2 separate regions of the Homo sapiens genome follow, and region 1 is linked to region 2. Evidence: fine-mapped expression QTL. Tissue or cell type: whole blood. Region 2 holds a variant in brackets; the other region holds the start of a gene. All regions are shown on one strand. Distances are from middle to middle.

Region 1 (8,000 bases), 23 kb before region 2:
ATGTGTTTAGAAGCTGCTCATTAACATCAGTTAAAAATGTTTTCTCAGCCAGGCGCAGTGGCTTATGCCTGTAATCCCAGCATTTTGGGAGGAAGGGGCGGGTGGATCACAAGGCCAGGAGTTCGAGACCAGCCTGGCCAACATGGTGAAACCCCATTTCTACTAAAAATACAAAAGTTAGCTGGGTGAGGTGGCAGATGCCTCTTCACCTGCTGATAATGGAAATAAATGGAAATGCAGAGAGAGAGAGAGAGAGAGAAAGAAAGAGAGAGAAAGAAAAAGAAAGAGGAAGAGAAAGAGAAAGAAAAAGAAAGGAAAAGAAAGAAAAGAAAAGAAAGAAAGAAAGAAAAGAAAAGAAAGAAAGGTGATGTATTTCACAATTAATAGCATGTCACGGTTAACTGGCAGCATTCTTTCTTTCTTAGTGGTACACAAAACACTGGTGTGAGTTATAATCGATGAGATTATATAACCGAGGCTTTAACTCGATAGCATGCGATAATTTCCAGGACTCATTTACAAACCCCTTCTCTTACTTAAAAACTGATCTCCTTGTCATATCCTAAGGACATTGGAAGTGTGTCAAAGGGTGTGTTAAAGTTTGTACTTTAATACTTCACATGAAAAATGATACACAAAACAACTTCCCGGTGTCCATGAATCTTTAACCCGCATAAAAGACTTTGTTCTATTTCATTGTGACCTCACTCGAGTCTGGTTCACATTATCAACAGGTCACAGGTTATGAAATCATCTCTATCAGCTTTGAAATGCACTGCACCACCCATTCAAACACACACACACACACTCAACCCACTTTTTTCCTGACGTTTCAAGAAGGAATAAAATCTTACTAATTTTTTCAAATTTACAAACACAACACAGGTATCAGTAACATAATCTTCTAGGAGGAGTTACTCTATCTCAATATCCCCACAGCCATGAGTTACAAACTTCAAAAACAAAACAGACCATTTGGAAGTATGCTGATTTGAACTACCAAAAATAAATAAACAAAATTTTTTCGTTTAAAACTGAGTGGAGCTCTGAGGAAAGTCCAAAGTGCCAGAGTAAACCATTTCATCTTCACAAAAATAACCCAAGTCAAGCTGAAAATCGATACCAAAGGCACTAGAGGCAGTGACCATTATTACCATAAAGGCAGAACGTGCAACATGTTCTATTTAGCTTGGTTCTAGTCTATACACCACTCATACGATTTAGTCTTTACCGATGAAAATACTGGAGTTCCTTTAAAATGGAGAAACCTAAAAGAGAAAATGCCCAGGAATAAATGAGAAAAAAATGCTATAGGCCAAAATAATCTTGTACTAGGATCATGTAATAGTGTTTGTTTAGGTTAAGGCAAAAAAGTCTTTTTTTTTTTTTTTTTTTTTTTTGAGACAGAGTCTCTCTTTGTTGCCCAGTCTGGAGTGCAGTGGCGTGATCTCGGCTCAGTGCAGCCTTTGCCTCCCAGGTTCAAGGGATTCTCCTGCCTCAGCCTCCTGAATAGCTGGGACCCCAGAAGCGCACCACCAGGCCCGGCTAATTTTTGTATTTTTAGTAGAGAGAGTTTCACCATTTTGGCCAGGCTGGTCTCGAGCTCCTGGCCTCAAGTGATCCACCTGCCTTGGCTTCCCAAAGTGCTGAGATTACAGGCATGAGCCACTGTGCCCGGCCCGAAGTCCTTATTTTTATTTATTTTTACCGTTCCTTGTGGAGCAGGGTGGATCACGAGGTGAGGAGTTTGAGACCAGCCTGGCAACATGGCGAAACCCCATCTCTACTAAAAATACAAAAATTAGCCGGGTGTGGTGGCGGGCGCCTGTAATCCCAGCTACTCAGGAGGCTGAAGCAGGAGAATCGCTTGAATCCGGGAGGTGGAGGCTGGAGTGAGCCGAGATCGTGCCACTGCACTGCAGCCTGGGCGACAGAGCGAGACTCCGTCTCAAAAAACAAAAACAAAAACAAAAAACACAACAAAACACATGGTCTGAAAAAAGGATATACTCTCTTCCACACTAGAACCAAGGCAGGTTTTTATGACGTCTCTCTCATATGCACAAGACAACCATTCAAGCACTGTCATGGATTCAGAACTACTGGGTTCTTAGACTTTCTATTCATTCAGAGGCGTCACAGATCATTCTTCATCCAGGTCCACACTACCATATAATATAATCTGCTATTGCTCCAAAATATTTAAATGGTCGTGCAACTAAAAAAAAAAATGCTCCCAGATTCAGAATTTTAGCAGTCCTCCTTACAAAGAGCAAAATGATTCTGCATTTAAATCAGTCAAATTTGAGTTGCTTGGGCAGAACAATGCTTTTACAACATCCTTGAAACTGTACTCTTGAGAACAAAAACTCCTGCATTTCCATTTATTATCAGCATTCTACAAACACGTCATCCCACGAAAAGGCTTGGATACAAAAGTGATCACATTATTTTTCACACATATAACTTTATTTATTTATTTATTTATTTATTTTTTGAGATGGAGTCTCGCACTCTTGCCCAGGCTGGAGTGCAGTGGCGCGATCTCGGCTCACTGCAAGCTCCGCCTCCCTAGTTCACGCTATTCTCCTGCCTCAGCCTCCCGAGTAGCTGGAACTACAGGCGCCCGCCACCACGCCCGGCTAATTTTTGTATTTTCAGTAGAGATGGGGTTTCACCGTGTTAGCCAGAATGGTCTCGATCTCCTGACTTGGTGATCCGCCCGCCTCGGCCTCCCAAAGTGCTGGGATTACAGGCGTGAGCCACCGCGCCCGGCCACACATATAACTTTATAAAGTTGCATGAAAATATGCCAGTTTGCATCTTCAAACACCAAGCACGGTGATGAAAGGCCACCATAGACCGCAGCTGTAAAGTTTAGGCTTAACAACACTTGCTCTGTTCTAAGGCATACCTACTTTTTAAACCACATAATTTCATCAGGGTCAGCGATGCCAAACTCCCTCATCTTCTTCACCATGATGGCACTTTTCCTGACAGCCACCTCATAACGCTGGCTGCGAGTGAGGAAGTTCAAGTCCTCATGCTGGAAGTCTGGGTCGTTCAGGATCATGTTCTCTGAAAGGGGGTTAAAGGGCATTAAAAGGCAGACAGACACTCGGGCCTCCGTTCCACCCTCCCTGAATCACAATAGGCTTCAGAGTCGCGGACACACCTGGGGAATGGCGATATCCCCCCACCAGGGACACAGGCTGTTCCTCGAAGTGGGGGTCCCGGCTCCCCTAACGCTGGGCCAGAGGGCCTAGGCCCCACAGCGCCCCTGACTCCGCATCGAGGGAGTCTCCAGCTTTTCTCGGGAAAGGAGGGAGGTCTCGCCCGCCGCCCTCACCGATCTCTCGGCGGCGCCGGGTTTTCTCGGGGCTGCCGTCCAGGATGTGTGTAAGCAGCTCCGGGTTGAAGCTGGCGGAATCCCGCTCCCTGCGCAGGTCCGGGTTCATGGCGACGACCAGCTGGCAGCGAAGTAAGCACCGACCGAGGTGGCAGTGACAATCTAAATCCGCAGCTCCAGCGCCGGCCGGACCCTAGGAGGCAGCCTCAGGACGGCGCAAGTCCCCGCCTCCGCTCGCCCGGCCCGCCCCGGCCCGCCCCTTCTTTCTCCGTGGCCCTTTGGCGCGTGAGTGACAGCGGCCCAGACAGAGGGGGCGATGTCCGCGTCGTGGCTGGGGCCGGTCGCGGGGCAGACTAATCCCCTGCTCCTGGCCAGGGGAGGCTCCCGAGCGGATCCTCGGGAAAGGGGCTCCGAAGGTCAAGAAACTGCCCTGCTGGGCGTCCGGGGAGTGGGAAAATAAAGCACTTTTTGTATCCCGCCCCTCCCCCGTCACGTGACCACGCGAGGCGGAAAGAAGAAATCCGAGGACCGGCGACGCCTAGAACAGGTTGGCTGGGGCCTTGGGAAGGGGGCGGGACAACGAGGCTGAGGAGGGATTGCGCCTGCACTTGCCCCCCTCTTACCCCGCGGCCTCTGTCACGCTTCCGGGTCCGTGCCCCTAGGCCTCTCCGAAATGAGAGTGGTCGGGAGACTCTGGAGTCTGGGGCGGGAGATGGGGCTTTGCGGAATTGCTAGGGAGGGTCACTTGGGCTTTTGCCAAATCCACCCGGATTGGAGAAGAATGGGACGGGAACCAGTCTCTTTGGGGAGAGGCTCCAGTTACCTTTTGTTAAGATAATGGCGTCTTTACTGGCAGAGGCGTGGGTTCCGGGGCCCTGGGTGTGGGATTGTGAGCGCTGTTCAAGGGGTGGACGGGGACTTAGAATGAGACCAAGCGGGCGGTGCTGCTCTAAGCCTTCTGTCTGGGAAACCAGACATTTTCCCCCGCAACCTGGCAGTTACTAGAGGTCTTGGAATCCAGACTTCTTTGCTTTCGCCATCACCGTCATCAAAGTGGGAAATGCACACTTACTGTTAAAACCTAGTGTAGGGCCGGGCGCGGTGGCTCACGCCTGGAATCCCAGCACTTTGGGAGGACGAGGCGGGCGTATCACTTGAGCCCAGGAGTTCAAGACCAGCCTGGGCAACATGGCAAAACCCCATCCCTACAAAAAATACCAAAAAATTAGCTGGGTGTAGTGGCATGCGCCTGTAGTCCCAGCTACTCTGAAGGCTGAGATGGGATGGTGGCTTGAGCCCCGGAGGTGGAGGTTGCGGTGAGCCAAGATTGTGACATTGCACTCCATCCTGGGCAACATAGTGAGACCCTGTCTCTACAGAAAAAAAACAAAAAACAAAAACAGTTCTGCCCAGTGGGATTGTAGACAAGGGAGATTCAGGGATTTGTTGAATCATCTCTAGTCATTTTTTTTTTTTTTCTTGAGACGGAGTCTCGCTCTGTCGCCCAGGCTGCAGTGTGGTGGTATGATCTCAGCTCATTGCAACCTCCACCCCCTGGGTTCAAGCGATTCTCCTATCTCAGCCTCCCGAGTAGCTGGGATTATAGGGGCTCGCCACCACACCCAGCTAATTGTATTTTTAGTAGAGACAGGATTTTGCCATGTTGGCCAGGCTGGTCTCGAATTCCTGACCTGTTGATCCACCTGCCTCGGCCTCCCAAAGCGCCGGGATTACAGGCGTGAGCCGCTGCGCCTAGCCTGTCTGTAGTCTGTGTAATACTATGACTTTGGTTTTCTCAGAAGTAAAACTACGAGAGATGCATAACATTCATAATTTGAATAATAGAACTATAATACACACTCTTAACCCCTAGGACCTCAGGATCCTCATTTGTCTTATTAAGCTGCTGATCTCAGGCCCCTTCAACAGCAGAGAGGGTGTCTAGTTTATTCTCTGTACCTGGCACAGTGCCTGCCCCGCTAAAGGTGCTCAGGAAATCTTTGTGGAGTGAACAAATGGCTGCTTGACAGCTGACCTTCTAGTTCTAATATTCTAGGAAACCAATTGCTCTTAATGTAACAATGATAAGGGGTGTACTTAGCATTGAATAGAAAAGACTTAGATGAAGAGCTAAATTTGCTGAGTTTTTATTTTGAAATAATTTCAAATTTACACGAGAATTACAAGAATAGAACAAAGAACTTTTCTTCTGTGACTTTAACGCTTTTTTTTTTTCTTTTGAGATGATGTCTTCCTCTGTCACCCAGGCTGGAGTGCAGTTGCATGATTTCAGCTCACTGCAACCTCCGCCTCCTGGGTTCAAATGATTCTCATGCCTCAGCCTCCAGAGTAGCTGGGACTACAGGAATGTACTACCACACTTGGCTAATTTTTGTGTCTTTATTAGAGGCAGGGTTTCACTATGTTGACCAGGCTGGTCTCCAACTCCTGGCCTCATGTGATCCGCTCGCCTCAGCCTTCCAAAGTGCTGAGATTACAGGCGTGAGCCACTGCGCCTGGCTGGCTGACATTAACACTTTTGAAGTGTATAAGCCCATTGTTTTGTAGTGTTGGGTCTCAGAAAACAATACCCCAAAATGAAGGCCTCAGAAGCAACCCACAAAGCAAGTTGTTTTTTTTTTTTTTTTTACCTTCTGTCCTCCTCTCCCTCAGGTGCATTCTCCCCCGAGCCTAGCCAGAGAAGTTAGAATCCTCTTCCCCAAGGCAGGTCATAGAAAACAGAGTCATTTACCCCCAAAGCCAGCCATAAAACCCTAAATATAAGCTGGGTGCGGTGGCTCACGCCTATAATCCTGGCACTTTGGGAGGCCAAGGCAGGTGGATAGCGAGGTCAGGAGATCGAGACCATCCTGGCTAACACGGTGAAACCCCGTCTCTACTAAAAATACAAAAAAAGCCGAGCGAGGTGCCATGTGCCTGTAGTCCCGGCTACTCGGGAGTCTGAGGCAGGAGAATCGCTTGAACCGGGGAGGCAGAGGTTGCAGTGAGCCGAGATTGCACCACTGCATTCCAGCCTGGGCGACAGAGTGAGACTCTGTCTCAAAAAACAAACAAAAAAAACCCTAAATATATTACTCTTAACTTTCCCTCCTTCTTTTGGTGTAAAAACTGGCCAAAAAGAAATTATCTGACCTAGCTTGTTTGACTGTAGGCCATAAGACTCCATTCCAGAGAGGGTCCTCCCCCACACCCAGAAGGAAGGAATGCCTGTTCCAAGAGGCCAAGAAGAATCTAGACAGACAGGCCTTGCTGGGCCTCCCCACTCAGTCTATCAGCATTAGATCATACCTTTTATGTTCAATCATTTGCATAAAAATGTACAATTTCCCCTGTATCTTTGGGTCTTCCTTCTGAAGGCTCCCATATGTACATGTTACATAAATTTGTACACATTTTTGACTATTACTCTGCCTTTTGTAAGTTGATTTTTTGCAGCGAAACTTCAGAGGGCCCCTTGGCACCTACAGTAGAATGTCCCTTAATTCAGATTTGTCTGATATTTCTTCATGATTAGATTCAGATGATGCATTTTTGGCAGGAATACCACACAAGTGATTAATAGGAGAAAAGGCATACACATGTATTTGATCATAGTTTTGCTTTGTTTTGTTTTGTTTGAGACAAGGCCTTGCTCTGTCACCCAGACTAGAATGCAGTGGCGCAACCATAGTTCACTGCAGCCTCAAACTCTTAGGCTCAAGCATTGATCATAGTTTTATTTATTTATTTATTTATTATTTTTTCAGGCAGAGTCTCACTCTGTCGCCCAGGCTGGAGTGCAGTGGCATGATCTCGGCTCACTGCAGCCTCCGCCTCCCGGGTTCAAGCAATTCTGCTGCCTTAGCCTTCCCTGTAGCTGGGATTACAGGCACCCGCCATCATGCCTGGCTAATTTTTGTATTTTTAGTAGAGACGGGGTGTCACCACATTGGCCAGGCTAGTCTCGAACTCCTGACCTCAAGTGATCTGCCCGCCTTGGCTCAAAAAAAAAAAAAAGAAAGAAAAAAGGAAGAGGCCCGGTGAGGTGTCTCACGCCTGTAGTCCCAACACTCTGGGAGGCCGAGGTGGGTGGATCACCTGAGGTCAGAAGTTCATGACCAGCCTGGCCAACATGGTGAAACCCCGTCTCTACTAAAAATACAAAAATTAGCCGGGCATGGTGGCACACGCCTGTATTCCCAGCTACTCAGGAGGCTGAGGCAGGAAAATCGCTTGAACCCGGGAGGCAGTGGTTACAGTGAGCCGAGATCCCGCCACTGCACTCCAGCCTGGCAGACAGAGCGAGACTCCATCTCAAAAAAGAAAGAAAGAAAGAAAGAAAAATGTATAATCATTATACCAGCAAATTCCTCCCTCGGTGAGAATTGCATAGCAACCCCAGCATCCTCCCCACCTCTTTTTCCCCAGATCCACCAGAAAAACAGGAACATCTAGTGGGGACACTCCTTTAGTCCCCTCATGTTAGTGAGCACACACTCGTGTACACTAGCCCTTCATAATTGTTATCTCCCCCTGTTTTAGACAACCAGTGTTTTCATAGCCTATGCCACCTCTATAACCACCTGATGGGTTCCCACAGCACAAACGAAATCATTTCATGGAGAGCATGGCATTACAGTCAAGAAAGACT
Region 2 (8,000 bases):
TCCTTTTTTTTTCCTTTTTTTTTTTTTTTTGAGACAGAGTCTCATTCTGTTTCCCAGGCTGGAGTGCAGTGGCGCAATCTTGGCTCACTGCGACATCCACCTCCCCGGTTCAAGTGATTCTCGTGCCTCAGCCTCCCAAGTAGTCGGGCCTGGGTAACTTTTGTATTTTTAGTAGAGACAGGGTTTTCGCTTGTTGGCCAGGCTGGTCTTGAGCTCCTGGCCTCAAGTGATCTGCTTGTCTTGCCCTCCCAAAGTGTTGGGATTACAGTGTTGGGAGCCACCGCGCCACGCCCCGATTCCTCTCTGACCTGTGTCAGCACTGGGGCTAACAGAAGCTGAGACACACAGGCAACCTCATGTTTCAAATGAGTTCATTGCCTAAGGGTAGCCTGTATAGACAGCTAGGCAGGATGACACCCTGAATTCTGCCCTCAGGCTGTGCTATAAATGACCTAGACTAGAGGAAAGGGCAGGCAGAGCCTTTATCTCAAACAGCGTCAAAAGAAAACAATGTAATAGCCTAGAACATTGAATCTATTTATTTACTTATTTTGAGACAGAGTCTCACTCTGTTGCCCAGGCTGGAGTGCAGTGGCTTGATCTCGGCTCACTGCAACGTCTGCCTCCCAGGTTCAAGCGATTCTCCTGCCTCAGCCTCCCGAGTAGCTGGGTTTACAGGTGCCAGCTACCACACCTGGCTAATTTTTGTATTTTTAGTAGAGACGGGGTTTTGCCGTGTTGGCCAAGCTGGTCATGAACTCCTGACCTCAGGTGATCCACCCATCTCGGAAATCTATTTATTAAAGTGCTCAGAGAGCAGAAAGAGCATGAGTGCAAAAAATTTTTTTAACTTTTTTTTTTCTCTTGCAAGCTATGACTGGGGAAAAAAGAAAGAAAAAAAAAATGTCAGCAATGCACAGTGGCTCACGCCTATAATCCATGCATGTTGGGAGGCCGAGGCGGGCAGATCACTTGACCCCAGGAGTTTGAAACCAGCCTGGGCAACATGGCGAGACCCCATCTCTACAAGAAATACAAAAATTAGCTGGGTGTGGTGGTGCGTCCCTGTAGTCCCAGCTCCTCAGGAAGCTGAGATGATCACCTGAGCCTGGGAGGTGGAGGCTACATTGAGCCATGATTGAGCCACTGCATTCCAGCCCAAGTGACAGAGCAACACCCTGTCTCAAAAAAAAAATTTTTTTTTTTAGGTGGAGTCTTGCTCTGTTGCCCAGGCTGGAGTGCAGTGGCGTGATCTTGGCTCACTGCAACCTCCACCTCCTGGGTTCAAGCAATTCTCCTGCCTCAGCCTTCCAAGTAGCTGGGATTACAGGCATGCACCACTACACGCGGCTAATTTTTGTATTTTTAGTAGAGATGGGGTTTCATCATGTTGGCCAGGCTGGTCTTGAACTCCTGACCTCAAGTGTTCCACATGCCTTGGCCTCCCAAAGTGCTGAGATTACAGGTGTGAGCCAGTTCACCTGTCAAAAGAAAGAAAATTTTTAAAAAGTCTCTCGGAGATGTCTTTCCTGTTTGGTGCCACCTGAATAGTGGCAAACCTTTCCATTATGTATCAGGTCACCACCGCATCTGCTAGAAGCCCCCCTCGTCCAGGGTGGGATGACCTGCTCCTATAAAGCCAAACTTACCGGGAGCTCAGTCTCTTGGATTTTTAAAATATGGGTGTCTCTTTTCCCCGGTTCCTGATGACATTGTGTCCCAAGGTGCCAAGGGGGCCTTTCCCTCAGTCCAGAGGGGTTTTCTGACCACCTGCTAAGTTCCAGACACGGGCCGACTGTGCATGACAGGCCCACGGTTCTAGGCCCAAATACTCAGTTGCCTTTGCCCCATATGCTGTTATTGTCCACATCACTTGCTGCCAAAACCCAGGACTGAGCTGTGGAGGGAACAGCTGGAATGCACCTTGGAGGACGTTGTTGACACGCCGCTCAGTCGCCGTTCGTGCCCTGGTGTTTGTCTTGCAGACAGAGGCTCCGTGGTGAAGGCGCGCGTGCTGACCTGTGTGGAGGGGATGAACCTGCCCTTGTTGGAACAAGCCATCCGGGAGCAGAGACTGTACAAGCAGGAGCGGGGCGGCAGCCAGTAGGAAACAGCAGCCTAGCAACACCCTCACCTGCTTCAGAGCCCGAACCCTCTGGAGCTGCAGGAGCCCGGGAGAGCACAGACGCCTCCCCAGCGACGGCCTTGTCTGGAGCTCGAAAGCCGAGGGGCGGGTGATGAATCCAGCCCCTTCCCCTACTTTGGGATTGGCTCAGCAATGAGAACCCAGAAAGCATGCCATAAATCCGACAGCCCCACCCCAGGAGACTGCAGGTGGCCGAGCTTGGGCGCCGGGGCCGTGCTTGGTGTGGGGCCATGGAGGGTTCCAGAAGGTCCTGGTGAATAAAGGCCCAGGGGGCGTGCTCTTGAAGTGTGCTCGTGGTGCAGCGCCGGCGGGGGCCAGGAGGGGGAGCTGCAACCCAGGCTGTGGGCTGCAGCCTCTCAGGGCTTCTGGTGAATTCTGGGCCTGGGGCCTCAGGGTAGGGCACCAGGGGCCCAGGGGCTGGGGTGGGGGGCCCAGGATGCAGGGGTCTGCCCCTGGCCAGGCTCTGCCTTCAGAGGAGGCTGAGCGTCGTCACACGGGCCGGGCTGAGGCCCTGGGCCCTGACCGTGCAGCCTAAGACAGGACTGTGGCTTTAAGACCCTCCTGACCCCTGACCTCTGCCCCCAGTGGCCCTGGCCCCTGGGCAGCCCTTCCTGGCCGCCATGTGTACCCAGAGCCTGGGACTGGCTGGGCTGGGCAGTGACCCAGGTGGGAAAGGGTGGTCTTGCCCTCTAAGGCCCGGCACAAGTGAGAGGCCTGGGGGTCCATGTTGGGCTGGGCTGGGCGAGGGGTGGTCTCTGACTTCCTGGGGGTTCTGGCTGGGATGGGCAGGGGGCTGGGTGGGAGAGTGTGGGCCCTGCCCTCCGAGGCCGGGCATGGGCGAGAAGCCTGGGGGTCCTGGCTGAACTGGGCTGGGTGAAGGGGGCCCCCTGACCCCCTTGGGGTCCGGGCTGGGCTGGGTGAGGGGCGGTTTCCGACCCCCAGCCAGGTTCCCAGGCAGGATGAGCTGGGGTTGGGGTGGCTAGGCCGTGGGCCTTGGGAGCTGGGCAGTCTGGGCTGGGCTGGGCTGGGCAGGGCGCCACATGGAAGCTGGAGGAGCAACGGGAGCGCTGGGCGTGGGGTGCAAATTGCCC[G/A]GTGCCTTCTGTTTCCCAGGCAGCTCTGTGGCCATGGATATGTTCCAGAAGGTAGAGAAGATCGGAGAGGGCACCTATGGGGTGGTGTACAAGGCCAAGAACAGGGAGACAGGGCAGCTGGTGGCCCTGAAGAAGATCAGACTGGATTTGTGAGTGCTGGGACGGCCCCTGAGTTACCCACCCTGGGCCATCACAACCTGGGCGCTCCCTGATCCGTTCCCTCTTTCCTGGAGTCCACGTTTAACTCCTCTGGGTGCTGCCCAGCAGCCCTTACCTGTCCTCTCCCCAGTTCACTGCCTTCTGACCAGCCTTTGCCGGGGCCCTGACTGTGGAGTTTGGTGGATGACGTGCCAAGGAGCACAGGTCTCCATTGCCGGGGCCCTGGTCATTCTGTGGGGTTAAGGAGAAGCCGATCCCCCTGGCTGGAAGTGCCCTTCTTGGCCCAAGTCTCTGCCCACGGCTGTGCCCTTGTTTCTTGCAGGGAGATGGAGGGGGTCCCAAGCACTGCCATCAGGGAGATCTCGCTGCTCAAGGAACTGAAGCACCCCAACATCGTCCGGTGAGTTGGGGATTGAGGTGGGGAAGCTGGGATGGCGAAGGTAGCATCCTGACTGCCATCTCCCTGTCAGACTGCTGGACGTGGTGCACAACGAGAGGAAGCTCTATCTGGTGTTTGAGTTCCTCAGCCAGGACCTGAAGAAGTACATGGACTCCACCCCAGGCTCAGAGCTCCCCCTGCACCTCATCAAGGTAGGGAAGGAAGGGCAGGGAAGGAGAGGTGACACCCCATCCCTGCCATCCCTGTCCACGCAGCACCTCCGCTCAGCTGGCTGCACCTCGCGCTCGTTTCTCCAGAGCTACCTCTTCCAGCTGCTGCAGGGGGTGAGTTTCTGCCACTCACATCGGGTCATCCACCGAGACCTGAAGCCCCAGAACCTGCTCATCAATGAGTTGGGTGCCATCAAGCTGGCTGACTTCGGCCTGGCTCGCGCCTTCGGGGTGCCCCTGCGCACCTACACCCATGAGGTATTGTGAGACAAAGAGGAGAGAGGGGCAGCAGGAGGAGTGTCACCCATGCACTCAGCCACCCTGAGTGATACTGTTTCTTTGCCCTGCAGGTGGTGACACTGTGGTATCGCGCCCCCGAGATTCTCTTGGGCAGCAAGTTCTATACCACAGCTGTGGATATCTGGAGCATTGGTTGCATCTTTGCAGAGATGGTAGAGAGAGGGGCACACATGGCCACAGGGTGCCACAGGCAGGGTCCTACTGGGGTTGGGTGGGGTCCACTGATGCTCCCATTCGAGGCGGATTAAAGAGTGTTTGGGGCTGGACATGGCTCACGCCCGTAATCCCAGCACTTTGGGAGGCTGAGATGGGAGGATGGCTTGAGCCCAGGAGTTTGAGACCAGCCTGGGCAACGTAACAAATCCCCAGCTCTTAAAAAACTACAAAAATTAGCTGGGTGTGGTGGTGCATGCTTGTAGTCCCAGCTACTTGGGAGGTTGAGGCAGGAGGATTGCTTGAGCCTGTGGTTGAGGCTGCAGTGAGCTGTGATCGCACGACTGCACTCTAGCCTGGGTGACAGAGCAAGACTCCGTCTCTATTTTTTAAAAAAAGGTGTTTGGTACTGGCTAAAGGACTGAGGAAGGTAGCTTTATTCCAAAAGAGGCCAGAATTCTTTGCACAGTCATGGAAAAGATATCTTGACAGGCCTCTCCCTGGGTCTGGCCACTTATCTGGTATTGGATTCTGTATAACAAAGTGGCGGACCCCACACCTTCTCTTCTTCCCCATTTCAGGTGACTCGAAAAGCCCTGTTTCCTGGTGACTCTGAGATTGACCAGCTCTTTCGTATCTTTCGTATGCTGGGGACACCCAGCGAAGACACATGGCCCGGGGTCACCCAGCTGCCTGACTATAAGGGCAGCTTCCCTAAGTGGACCAGGAAGGGACTGGAAGAGATTGTGCCCAATCTGGAGCCAGAGGGCAGGGACCTGCTCATGGTAGGTGCATGTGGGCTCCAGCTGCTGCTCCGACTACAGTTTCCCCTCATCAGCCAGCCTCTTACATAACCCTGGCACTTTCTGAGTCCAAGGCCAGGGTCTCTTTCCTGACCTTTGTACACAACTGGCTTGGGTATACTGATTGTTCAACCCGGAAGCCTCCCCCAGGATAAGTGCAGTATTTATCTTCCCTGTGAAAGTGGCGCTCATTGAGTTAGCTCTGTCTTTATGCTGTGCTACACGCCCTTTTTCCCTAGTTGTCTTGTGTGTTTGGTTATTCTACTTTGTGGACATTACTGCTCCATCTAAGCTGTATGCCTCCCCAGGCTGGGGCCATACCTTCTTTTCTTTTCTTTTTTTTGAGATGGAGTTTTGCTCTTGTTGCCCGGGCTGGAGTGCAATGGCGTGATCTCAGCTCACTGCAACTTCTGCCTCCTGGGTTCAAGTCATTCTCCTGCCTCAGCCTCCCGAGTAGCTGGGACTACAGGTGCCTGCCACCACGCCCAGCTAATTTTTGTATTTTTTTTTTTAGTAGAGACAGGGTTTCACCATGTTGGCCAGACTGGTCTTGAACTCCTCAGGTGATCTGCCCACCTCGGCTTCCCAAAGTGCTGGGATTACAGGCATGAGCCACTGTGCCCGGCTGGGGCCTCTCGTTCTACTGCCTGGCTGTTCCCCTGTGACTCCTACAGTGGTCAGTCTTCAGAACAGGCTGTTCCCTACTGCCTGGGCCCATGCCACAGTTCTCACTCACCCCTCCTGTTGGTGTCTTGAGCTGACCCAGGCCGGACTGCCCAGGAAGTCTCTGGCAGAACCGTCTGTTTTTTTTTTTTTTTTTGAGACAGGGTCTCAGTCTGTCACTCAGGCTGGCGTGCAGTGGTGTGACCATGACTTACTGCAGCCTTGACCTCCCAGGCACAAGCGATCCTCCCATCTCAGCCTCCTGAGTAGCTGGGACCACAGGTATACGCCACTATGCCTGGCTACCTTTTGTATTTTTTTTGTAGAGACAGCATTTCACCACGTTGCCCAGGCTGGTCTCGAACTCCTGGGCTCAATTGATCCTCCCACCTCAGCTTCCTGAGTAGCTGAGACTATAGGGGTGCACCACCATGCCCAGCTAATTTTATTTTTGTAGAAATGGGGTCTCACTATGTTGCTCAGACTGGTCTCGAACTCCTGGGCTCAAGCGATCCTCCTACCTTGGCCTCTCAAAGTGCTGGGGGGATCACAGGTGTGAGCCACTGCGCCCGTCCACTGTCCATTCTTGCCCACAAAGTCTTGGAGCCACATTTCTCTCCTTAATCTGGTGTTGAATGAGAGGAAGGTGGGTCAGTATTTTCATCTTCAGGCTGTGTGTCCAGCTCTCCAGAAGTCTCTGTGTGTTGTGTACCCGCCCAATGGCAGCAGGACGGCACAGACTCCAGCCAAGGCCCCGAGCCCTCCAGCTGGGCTACTCCACCACAGGGGGTCCTTCCACATCCTGTCTGGGTTTAGGGACTCTAGGGCAGAGGGCTGGACAGGTTTGGCCTCTTGGAGTGTCAGTCCCTGAGCCCCCACTCAGTGTTCCTCCCTGGACAGCTTCAGTCCCCTGCTTCCTGATACGTGGGGTTCTGTGCTCTTCCCAACTAGAAGCAGGCTGGGACCTGGGACCCTCCCCGAGAAGGGGGGTGACTCAGCTTCAGTGGCCTGAGGAGACCTGGGTGACTCGTTAGGACTGTCCAGATTCCAGGAGTGTCCGGAACTGGCTGGAGAGCTGGGAGGTCATGGCTTCATGCGGTTCTGGGTTTGAGGGCAGCCAATTTGGGGCCCAGGCCCTTGATCTGGGACCTGGGAGGGGAATTTCTCACCCCACCCTGGCTGCACCCAGACCACATCTTCTTCCTTCTTTCTTCCTAGCAACTCCTGCAGTATGACCCCAGCCAGCGGATCACAGCCAAGACTGCCCTGGCCCACCCGTACTTCTCATCCCCTGAGCCCTCCCCAGCTGCCCGCCAGTATGTGCTGCAGCGATTCCGCCATTGAGAATGTCAAGGCCACACTCAGATCCTTTCTCGAGCAGCTGCTGCCCCAGCTGCCTCCTACCCATTGCCAAGAGAGGATGCATCTGGGGAGAGCAAAGCACTAAGGAATTCAGCATCAGCCTGCAGAGGGCTGAGTCTGGGTTAGTCCTGCCCGCAGGTTAGCGAGATCCTGTGTTGTTTTTTGGGTTGGACGGTGCCGTTTCAAAATAGAGGCACAGATGCTCCATGCACGAGGGGTCCCCGGGCACTGGAACAAGTGCCAAGTTGAAGGCAGGGGGCCTGCCAGAGCTGGGTGTGGGTATTCAGGCCCTCACCTGCCCTGCCTGCAGGGCCAGACCCTGAGGAAAGGGCGCCCCCTGCTGGTCTTTTTGGATTTAAAATGTTTGGGGGAAGAGTTGAGTTCCAGTTCAGTCCCAAGTTAAACAGGAGGGAGTGAGGGAGAGGAGAGAGGGCGTTCCCCGGATCCCAGGAGAGCTGGGCTATGACTGCAATAAGGAGTTGTTCCTTCACCTGAGATGTGCTTCTTTTGGTTCATTTCTGGCTTGACAACAATAAATAAACGTGGTATGTTCCTGAGTTTTCTGATTGTTCTGCTCACAGGGGACACCTGGGCTTCCTGACAAGGGGAACATTGACACAGGGCTGGAGACAGCTCTGGCCCAAACTGAGACAGTGGGGAAATGGGCAAGGAGTAGGTGGGGAGACAGGGGCTAGTCCATGATTTTTTTTTTTT

Evidence for each region. PIP is the estimated chance that this variant, and not a neighbour inherited with it, causes the effect.
Region 1: it holds the start of TEN1, and the variant in region 2 is fine-mapped to the expression of TEN1 in whole blood (TOPMed, PIP above 0.99). The same link has a PIP of 0.9 or more in blood mononuclear cells and lung.

Annotation. Positions count from the first base shown.
Region 1 is chr17:75,975,616-75,983,615 of GRCh38, forward strand. It overlaps TEN1 (TEN1 subunit of CST complex), which reads left to right and starts at 3,625. Exons shown (of 4, transcript NM_001113324.3): 1 at 3,625-3,896. It overlaps ACOX1 (acyl-CoA oxidase 1), which reads right to left and starts at 3,551. Exons shown (of 14, transcript NM_004035.7): 1 at 3,350-3,551; 2 at 2,919-3,078. The coding sequence starts at 3,458. It overlaps TEN1-CDK3 (TEN1-CDK3 readthrough (NMD candidate)), which reads left to right and starts at 3,602. Exons shown (of 10, transcript NR_037709.1): 1 at 3,602-3,896. RefSeq lists enhancers at 2,725-3,308, 3,214-3,443, 3,309-3,892, 4,014-4,113, 7,777-8,000 and a silencer at 3,524-3,593.
Region 2 is chr17:75,998,156-76,006,155 of GRCh38, forward strand. TEN1 (TEN1 subunit of CST complex) reads left to right here. Exons shown (of 4, transcript NM_001113324.3): 4 at 1,986-2,431. The coding sequence ends at 2,107. It overlaps CDK3 (cyclin dependent kinase 3), which reads left to right and starts at 2,700. Exons shown (of 8, transcript NM_001258.4): 1 at 2,700-2,812; 2 at 3,257-3,386; 3 at 3,719-3,796; 4 at 3,867-3,987; 5 at 4,093-4,263; 6 at 4,356-4,457; 7 at 5,040-5,243; 8 at 7,143-7,843. The coding sequence starts at 3,271. The coding sequence ends at 7,268. It overlaps TEN1-CDK3 (TEN1-CDK3 readthrough (NMD candidate)), which reads left to right. Exons shown (of 10, transcript NR_037709.1): 4 at 1,986-3,386; 5 at 3,719-3,796; 6 at 3,867-3,987; 7 at 4,093-4,263; 8 at 4,356-4,457; 9 at 5,040-5,243; 10 at 7,143-7,844. It overlaps LOC124904061 (a long non-coding RNA gene), which reads right to left and starts at 2,405. Exons shown (of 2, transcript XR_007065911.1): 1 at 1,650-2,405; 2 at 517-1,481. RefSeq lists an enhancer at 2,327-2,376 and silencers at 2,507-2,586, 4,939-5,139, 6,753-7,047. The variant G/A (reference allele first, on the strand shown) is at 3,238.